Linked DNA regions of Homo sapiens. The protein of the gene in region 1 purifies or fractionates together with the protein of each later gene. This does not show direct contact. Each region holds a gene or a part of one and is shown in the gene's direction. Other genes may lie near its edges.

Region 1 (3,987 bases):
AAAAAAAAAAAAAAAAAGCCGGGCGTGGTGCCTCACGCCTGTAATCCCAACACTTTGGGAGCTGTGGCAGGCGGATCACCTGAGGTCAGGAGTTCGAGACCAGCCTGACTAACATGGTGAAACGTCGTCTCTACCGAAAATAAAAAAATTGGGCGTGGTGGCATGTGCCTGTAATCCCAGCTACTCAGGAGGCTGAGGCAGGAGAATCGCTTGAACCCGGGAGGCAGAGGTTGCGGTGAGTCAAGATTGCACCATTGCACTCCAGCCTGGGCAACAAGAGTGAAACTCCGTCTCAAAAAAAAAAAAAAAAGAGGCTGGGCGCGGTGGCTCACGCCTGTAATCCCAGTACTTTGGGAGGCTGAGCGGGTGGATCACGAGGTCAGGAGTTCAACACCAGCCTGGCCAACATAATGAAACCCCATCTCTACTAAATATACAAAAATTAGCTGGGCGTGGTGGCACATGCCTGTAATCCCAGCTACTTCGGAGGCTGAGGCAGGAGAATCGCTTAAACCGGGGTTCCAGAGGTTGCAGTGAGCCAAGATCAAGTCACTGCACTCCAGCCTGGGCAACAGAGCTAGACTTCGTCTCAAAAAAAAAAAGGGAGTGTTTCAACAATAGTTAGCTCGGAAGTGGGAGGAGGAAGGCATTATGGAGTGCAGGGTTAAGCTCACATGCAAATACTTTTTATATAAACATAAATATGCTGCATGTAAATATATAGTGATGGTTATGCACATAAGCATCTAATAGTGCTGATTCCCAACTTAATAAAGTTGAAGTCTGAAAATAGGAAAGGATTGGTTTTAGTTCTGTTTGCGTTTTTAAAGTTAATTATTTACGAGTAATTCTCATATTAAATTCCTTGTCCAGCTTGTTTATTAATTATTAAGTAGAATACTGTACTGATTTCTTGGCAGTAGCAGGGAAGGAATATATAGAACATACAGAAGCCCTGCACTTCAGAAATGTTAAGTCAGTGTCTTTTTTTTTTTTTTTTTTTTTTTTTTTAAAGAGAGAGTCTCACTCTGTTGCCCAGCCTGGAGTGCAGAGGTGTGATCTCAGCTCACTGCAACCTCTGCCTCCCGGGTTCAAGCAATTCTGCTGCCTCAGCCTTCCGAGTAGCTGGGATTACAAGTGCATGCCTCCATGCCCAGCTAATTTTTGTATTTTTTGTAGTGACGGGGTTTCTCCCTGTTGGCCAGGCTGGTCTCGAACTCCTGACCTCAAGTGATCCACCCGCCTCAGCCTCCCAAAGTGCTGGGAGTACAGGCGTGAGCTACCACACCTGGCTAAGTCAGTGTCTCATTATCTTTCCATTGGAATAAATAGCTTTACTCTTGTCAATTTGTGCTTAGAATAGTGTTTTGCATGGAGTTGGCCCTCAATAAATGTGAGTTATGTCAGAACTAAATTTACATAATACAAACTAAAGGCATAAATTCTGGACAATATTGAAGGAATGAAGAAATGGAGATATGTGGTTTTTTGTTTGTTTTCTTTGAGATGGAGTTTGCTCTTGTTGCCCAGGCTGGAGTGCAGTGGCATGATCTCGGCTCACTGCAACCTCCTCCTCCCAGGTTCAAGCGATTCTCCTGCCTCAGCGTCCTGAGTAGCTGGGATTACAGGCATGTACCACCACGCCCAACTAAATTTTATTTTTAGTAGAGATGGGGTTTCTCCATGTTGGTCAGGCTGGTCTCAAACTCCCGACCTCAGGTGATCCACCCGCCTTGGCCTCCCAAAGTGCTGGGATTACAGGCGTGAACCACCATGGCTGGCCAAGATGCATGCTTTTTAAAAATTGCAAGTGTTTTTTTTTTTTTGAGTTGGAGTTTCGCTCTTGTCTCCCAGGCTGGAGTGCAATGTTGCGATCTTGGCTCATTGCAACCTCCACCTTCTGGGTTCAAGCGACACTCCTGCCTCAGCCTCCCGAGTAGCTGGGATTACAGGCGTGCACCACTACACCAGGCTAATTTTTTTTTGTATTTTTAGTAGAGACGGGGTTTTACCATTTTGGCCAGGCTAGTCTCAAACTCCTGACCTCAGGTGATCTGCCTGCCTCAGCCTCCTGAAGTGCTGGGATTAGAGGCATGAGTCACCATGCCCAGCCGCACGACTAATTTTTTAATGGTATGTTTTTTTCAGTGTGGATTGATATCTGAGTCAAGGATAGTGGCATTTTGCCTCTAAAAGCCTAACATAATGTAAGCTGAGACTGTATATCCTGAGTTCTCTGATAGATTATGAATGTTCATATATATATATATATATACACACACACACACACACTACACACACATACATATTTTATACATACAGAAATACATATATTTATTTATTTATTTATTTATTTATTTATTTATTTATTTTTGTTACCCTCCTGGTAAGTCACAGAACTTTTTTTTTTCCCCCACAAAATTTTTGTAAATTTTTGTATTTTTAGTAGAAACAGGGTTTTGCCATTTTGGCCAAGCTGGTCTTGAACTCCTGACCTTAGGTGATTTTCCCGCCTTGGCCTCTCACAGTGCTGGGATTGTAGGCGTGAGCCATCGTGGCCATCCTGGTTGTCTTTACTAATTCTGGCATTTGCTTTTCTTCCATTTGGAAACCAAATCTATTTGACTTTGCAGTAAGAAAGAATTTGTGGATATTTGGTGAGGAAGAGGCTAAAAAGGTGAATAAAAACTTAAGTGAGAATATTTTAAGTTGGGTCTGTGTTTTCATTTTAGTATAATCAAGTGATTTCATGGTGAAGGGTGGATTCCCCGCCCCCCACCCCCCAGGGAACATTTGGCAATGTCTGGAGAAATTTTTCATTGTCAAATATTTAGGGGAAGGGAGAGAGGTGTTGCTACTGACATCTAGTGGGTAGAGGCCAGGGATGCTGCTAAACATTGTACAATGCAGTGGACAAACCACAACAAAATTATCTGACCCAAATGACAGTGCTGCTATTGAAAAACCATGGTATGCTACATTGTAAATTGTTGGTTCTGAAGTTGAATCATCAAAAGTCATATTTGGCTAACCATTTCCTAATGTGTGACCCTGGCAGAATGCTTAAAGTCTGTAAAATAATATTGTATGTTCCTTATAGGCTTGTACTGAGGATTAAATCAGATAATGTGCAAAGAACCAAGCTTATTGCCTGGCACATAACAAAATCCTAAAAAATTGCTAACTTTCAGCCAATACTATGTTTGGAACTCATCTTGAGAGTCTCCTTTTTTCTCATCTGAAATTAGAATTTGAGCTAGTGAAATGATAATTAATAATCTAGTCCTTTTTGTTTTGAGACGGAGTCTTGCTTGTCACTCAGGCTGGAGTGCAGTGGCACGATCTCAGCTCACTGCAACCTCTGCCTCCCGGGTTCAACCAATTCTCCTGCCTCAGCCTCCTGAGTAGCTGGGACTACAGGCACGTGCCATCACGCCCAGCTAATTTTTTGTATTTTTAGTAGAGACGGTGTTTCACTGTGTTAGCCAGGATGGTCTCAATCTCCTGACTTTGTGATCCGCCTGCCTCGGCCTCCCAAAGTGCTGGGATCACAGGCGTGAGCCACCGCGCCTGGCCAATAATCTAGTTCTTGTATCTGTGGGGAATGAGTGAAAAAATTATTCCACTTAATATTTGTGTTTAGCCCAGTCTTGTTTTATGTTCTCAAGTCTAAAAAGCTTTTGCCATAAACAAGTAGCTTCTCACTGTAGATATTTTTCCATCAAATTGAGACTTTAAGCCAGCTTGCCAATTGCTCTGTTGATTCTCAGCAAATGTTTCATAATTTAACAGAATTTGATTCTGTGACTTCATGCTCATTTCCTTTTGCCTTTACAAACTAAAGTAAGTTTACAGTGGTTTTCGCTAACCTTATTACCTGTTTGCAGCCTCTAGGAGTAACTGTTTTCATAACTGAGGTTTTGGTGCACTCTCACATGTATGAAGGGTGCACACAAATATCTCCTAACAACTTGAGGCTGGACCTTA
Region 2 (3,987 bases), on another chromosome or scaffold:
TTGAGAGCCTATCTCAAATAATAATAATAATAATTTTTAAAAATTTAGTGATCCTAGGCCAGGCATGGTGGCTCACGCCTATAATCCCAGCACTTTGAGAGGCCAAGGTGGGAGGATCACTTGAGGTCCAGGAGTTCAAGGCCAGTCTGGCCAACATGGTGAAACCCTGTCTCTACTAAAAATACAAAAATTAGCTGGGCATGGTGGCTCACACCTGTAATCCCAGCACTTTGAGAGGCTGAGGCGGGTAGATCACTTGAAGTCAGGAGTTCGAGACCAATCTGGCCAACATGGTGAAACCCTGTCTCTACTAAAAATACAGAAATTAGGGGTGGTGGCAGGCATCTGTAATCCCAGCTACTTGGGAGGCTGAGGCAGGAGAATCACTTGAACCCAGGAGGCAGAGGTTGCAGTAAGCTGAGATCGCACTACTGCACTCCAGCCTGGGCAACAGAGTGAGAGTCTGTCTAAAATAAATAAATAAATAAATAAACTTAGCCGGGCATGGTGGTTCGCACCTGTAGTCCCAGCTACTTATAAGGCTGAGGCAGGAGAATCGTTTAAACCCAAAAGGCAGAGGCTATAGTGAGCTGAGATCACGCCATTGCACTCCAGCCTGGGTGACAAAGTGAGACTCCGTCTCAAAAATAAATAAATAAAATAAAATAAAATTTAATGATCCTAGAATTTATTTTGAGAGCATTAGAAAACACAGATAAGTATAAAAACCAGTATCAAATCAACTTTACTGATCAAGCTCTGCTTAGGATTCTGTTTCCTCCATTTTCTCTTTTCCATTTTATTTGTTCAACAGGAGAGTCACCAAAAAGTAGAGAGCAATAGAAGGAGGAGGAGAATAGGATTCACATGTATTGAATGTCTTTTATACACCAGGTAGCACTAAGCTCTTAACATATTTTATCTCATCTAATAGATACAACACTATGAGATGGAAATTATTCAGCTGCTGATATAATGGAGATCCCAAGAGATCAGAGTGACTTGCCCAGGGTCACAGAACCAGTAATAGACCTGAGTTCAAATTCTGCCTCTATGTGGCCCATAAGCCTATGCTCTTTGCATTGTAGCATATGTTTTATTTAAAACAGCCTTTCCCAATTATCTTTCCCAAAATTTAACAGATGTTAGGCACAAAAGGTTCCCTAGACAGATCTCTTTGGGAAATGCTGGGTTAAACACAGTAAGTTTTCTTACTACAGAATTTCTCAGTGCCTTTAATATGGACGTACACCTTGTGATCCTCCATGAGAGAGTGTGCTGCATTTCCTAACTTCACTGGACATGGAAACTTTTTCCATCCAACTGGCAGAATCAGAGTTCCGTGGGGCCTACTTTGGGGAAATCCTGCACTGAAACAACAGGAAAATGGTCAAGAGACAGGAAGAGGCATTTTCACCTTGGAGAACGCTCACATGACTGATAAATATATGAAAAGATCCTCATCTTCATTAGTAATCAGGGAAATGTAAATCAAATCCATGAGACTGGCAAAAATTAAGAAATCTGAAAATACCAAGTGTTGGGGAAAAGATAAATTAATAAGAACACATGTGGCCGGGCACAGTGGCTCATGCCTGTAATGTTAGCACTTTGGGAGGCCAAGCTGGGTGGGTCACTTGAGGTCAGGAGTTCAAGACCAGCTGGGCAACATGGCAAAACCCCATCTCTACAAAAAAATACAAAACTTAGCCAGGCATGGTGGCTCACACCTATAGTCCCAGCTACCTGGGAGGCTGAGGCAGGAGAATTGCTTGGACCCAGGAGGCGGAGCTTGCATTGAGCCAAGATCGTGCCACTGCACTCCAGCCTGGTGACAGAGTGAGACTCCGTCTAAAAAAAAAAAAAAAAAAAACCACGTACGTTGCTGGTGGGAGTGTAAATTGGTATAACCATTTTGGAAAATAATTTGGCATTGTCTCAAACAGTTGATTGTTCATATGCTCTGTCACTAGCAATTCCAGCCACTCCTAATTACAAGCTTTAGTCAGGATACATATTCAAACATGTTTATAGTAGCACAGTCCATAATAGCAGAACTGAAAAACAACCCAAATGAGCCATCAAAGTTGGAATTGGATAAACTGAGATATATTCATGTGCTGAATATATGATACAGCAGTGAAAATGGGCGAACTACAGTGAAATACAACAATATGGCCAAATCTTAGAAATTTAAAAATTGATTAAATTAGAAATGGAATTTGGTGACAGGGCTTAATTTTGCTTGACTAGGTTCCTCTTATTGCCAGGGTAAGTGGTGAGGGAGACAGAGCCCACTTGAGGGTTTCTTTCCCCATCAGCAGCATCAACTGTTTTGAAACCACATACAGCCAATAATCTCAGCTCCTGCCAATAATCTCAGCTACTTGGGAGGCTGAGGCAGGAGGATCAATTGAGCCCAGGAGTTCGAGGCCACGGTGAGCCAGGAACTCACCACTGCACTTTAGCCTGAGCGACAAAGAGATAACCCATATCTTAAAAACAACAGCAACAAAACAACAAACAAACCAGATACACGTGAAACGTCAGCCAACAGGGTGGTAGATTAATCTCACTGGTTTGGGCCTGGGTCCTGTGCCATGTACTCACGTTTTGATTTTTGGCAAGTCACATAATCTCCTTGGCCCTCGTTTTTGTTAGTGAAAAGTGGAGATAAGATCTGTCCCGGCTACTTGACTGAGCTATGGAGGAATCATGTGCAATTTGGAAGTGCTCTGGAAAGTATACTCTGGTCATCTTACAGGTATAGAGCACCGTCATCTTTATGGTTTCCTCTGCAGAGCCGCTTCCCAAAGAGTTGTTCAAGCACCGCCTTTTCAGAACACTCTCAGCTCGTGCTCTTCTGGGTAGTGCTGGGTCAGGAGCCTCTCATACTTTCACAAAGGACTTTTTCTGCCTGGAGGTCAGGTTTATGAGTGCAGCACATGAAACATGAGCTGGCCCAGGTTTCTCCATTTCAGTTAGATGTGCATCTAAAGAAAGAGAATCTAAAAGAAAAGCAGTCACAGTCCCTAAATCATACACATAAATTTAGGTGTGGAAGAAGGAAACAGTCCATTAAGCTGAAAGAAGAGCTGTTGGTCTGCCGTGTGTTTTGCACAAACTCAGACATGGCTGGACACCTTCCTCTAGGACCTTAGAGGCCAGAGTTGTGACACATCCTAAGTGGCTGGACTCCAGCTTCACTCACAGCACACGTGGGCAGGAACGAGGGAGCAGGCCATGTCAGCTGCCTGGACGATGCCTGAGACCTGACAGCTCTGTGCCTTGCCTGCAGCTCAGGGCATCAGGGTTCTCCCACTTCACTTGGAAATGTCAGGCAATGACTGGCCCGGGCTCTTGGTTTGCTAAAGAGGGGGCTACTCCTGGCCACATTTTCCCTAGAGCAAGATTCAGCGTTTGACCTTTTGGGATCTTGTGGTGAGGACCTTAAAAATAGGATCCTAATGCATCAGGAAATTCATGAGAACCCCTACCTCTCCACCTGCTTCTCTTTTCCAAACATGCTTTCATTCTCTAGACATCCCTTCTCCAAGTGAGAATTTCATAGCTTTTAGCAAATGCATTGATTGTTGGAAAGGACAAGCAGATTAACATTTGATGGGAACAGGTCCTTGTCTCCTCATTTGTAGACAACCCTAACACTTGCTCTGATATTAGTGCTGATTACTACCCTGAATGTAGTGTTTTGTTTCTCTTCAAATAGTGCTGGCACTGAGTCGGGATTTGTGTGTGTGTTTAGATGCCAGTCTCCTCGTGGGTCTGAATTACCACCTTCACCCCACTCCCATCCCACCCCCAGTTTTCTCTACTAACCTATTTTTCTTTTTCTTTTTTAGACCAATGATGCGAGCTCAGAGTCAATAGCATCCTTCTCTAAACAGGAGGTCATGAGTAGCTTTCTGCCAGAGGGAGGGTGTTACGAGCTGCTCACTGTGATAGGTATGTGCAGGGGCCGTCCTTACT

The links. The genes of interacting proteins can lie anywhere in the genome.
Region 2: the proteins of C5orf24 (region 1) and STRADA purify together in Homo sapiens (affinity purification with mass spectrometry; 2 studies listed by BioGRID and IntAct, with this or other methods). This does not show direct contact.

Annotation. Positions count from the first base shown.
Region 1 is NC_000005.10:134,848,664-134,852,650, forward strand, and holds part of C5orf24 (UPF0461 protein C5orf24), read left to right. Parts: intron 1-3,987.
Region 2 is NC_000017.11:63,713,982-63,717,968, reverse strand, and holds part of STRADA (STE20-related kinase adapter protein alpha), read left to right. Parts: intron 1-3,860; coding exon 3,861-3,963; intron 3,964-3,987. UniProt on the Homo sapiens protein: Pseudokinase which, in complex with CAB39/MO25 (CAB39/MO25alpha or CAB39L/MO25beta), binds to and activates STK11/LKB1.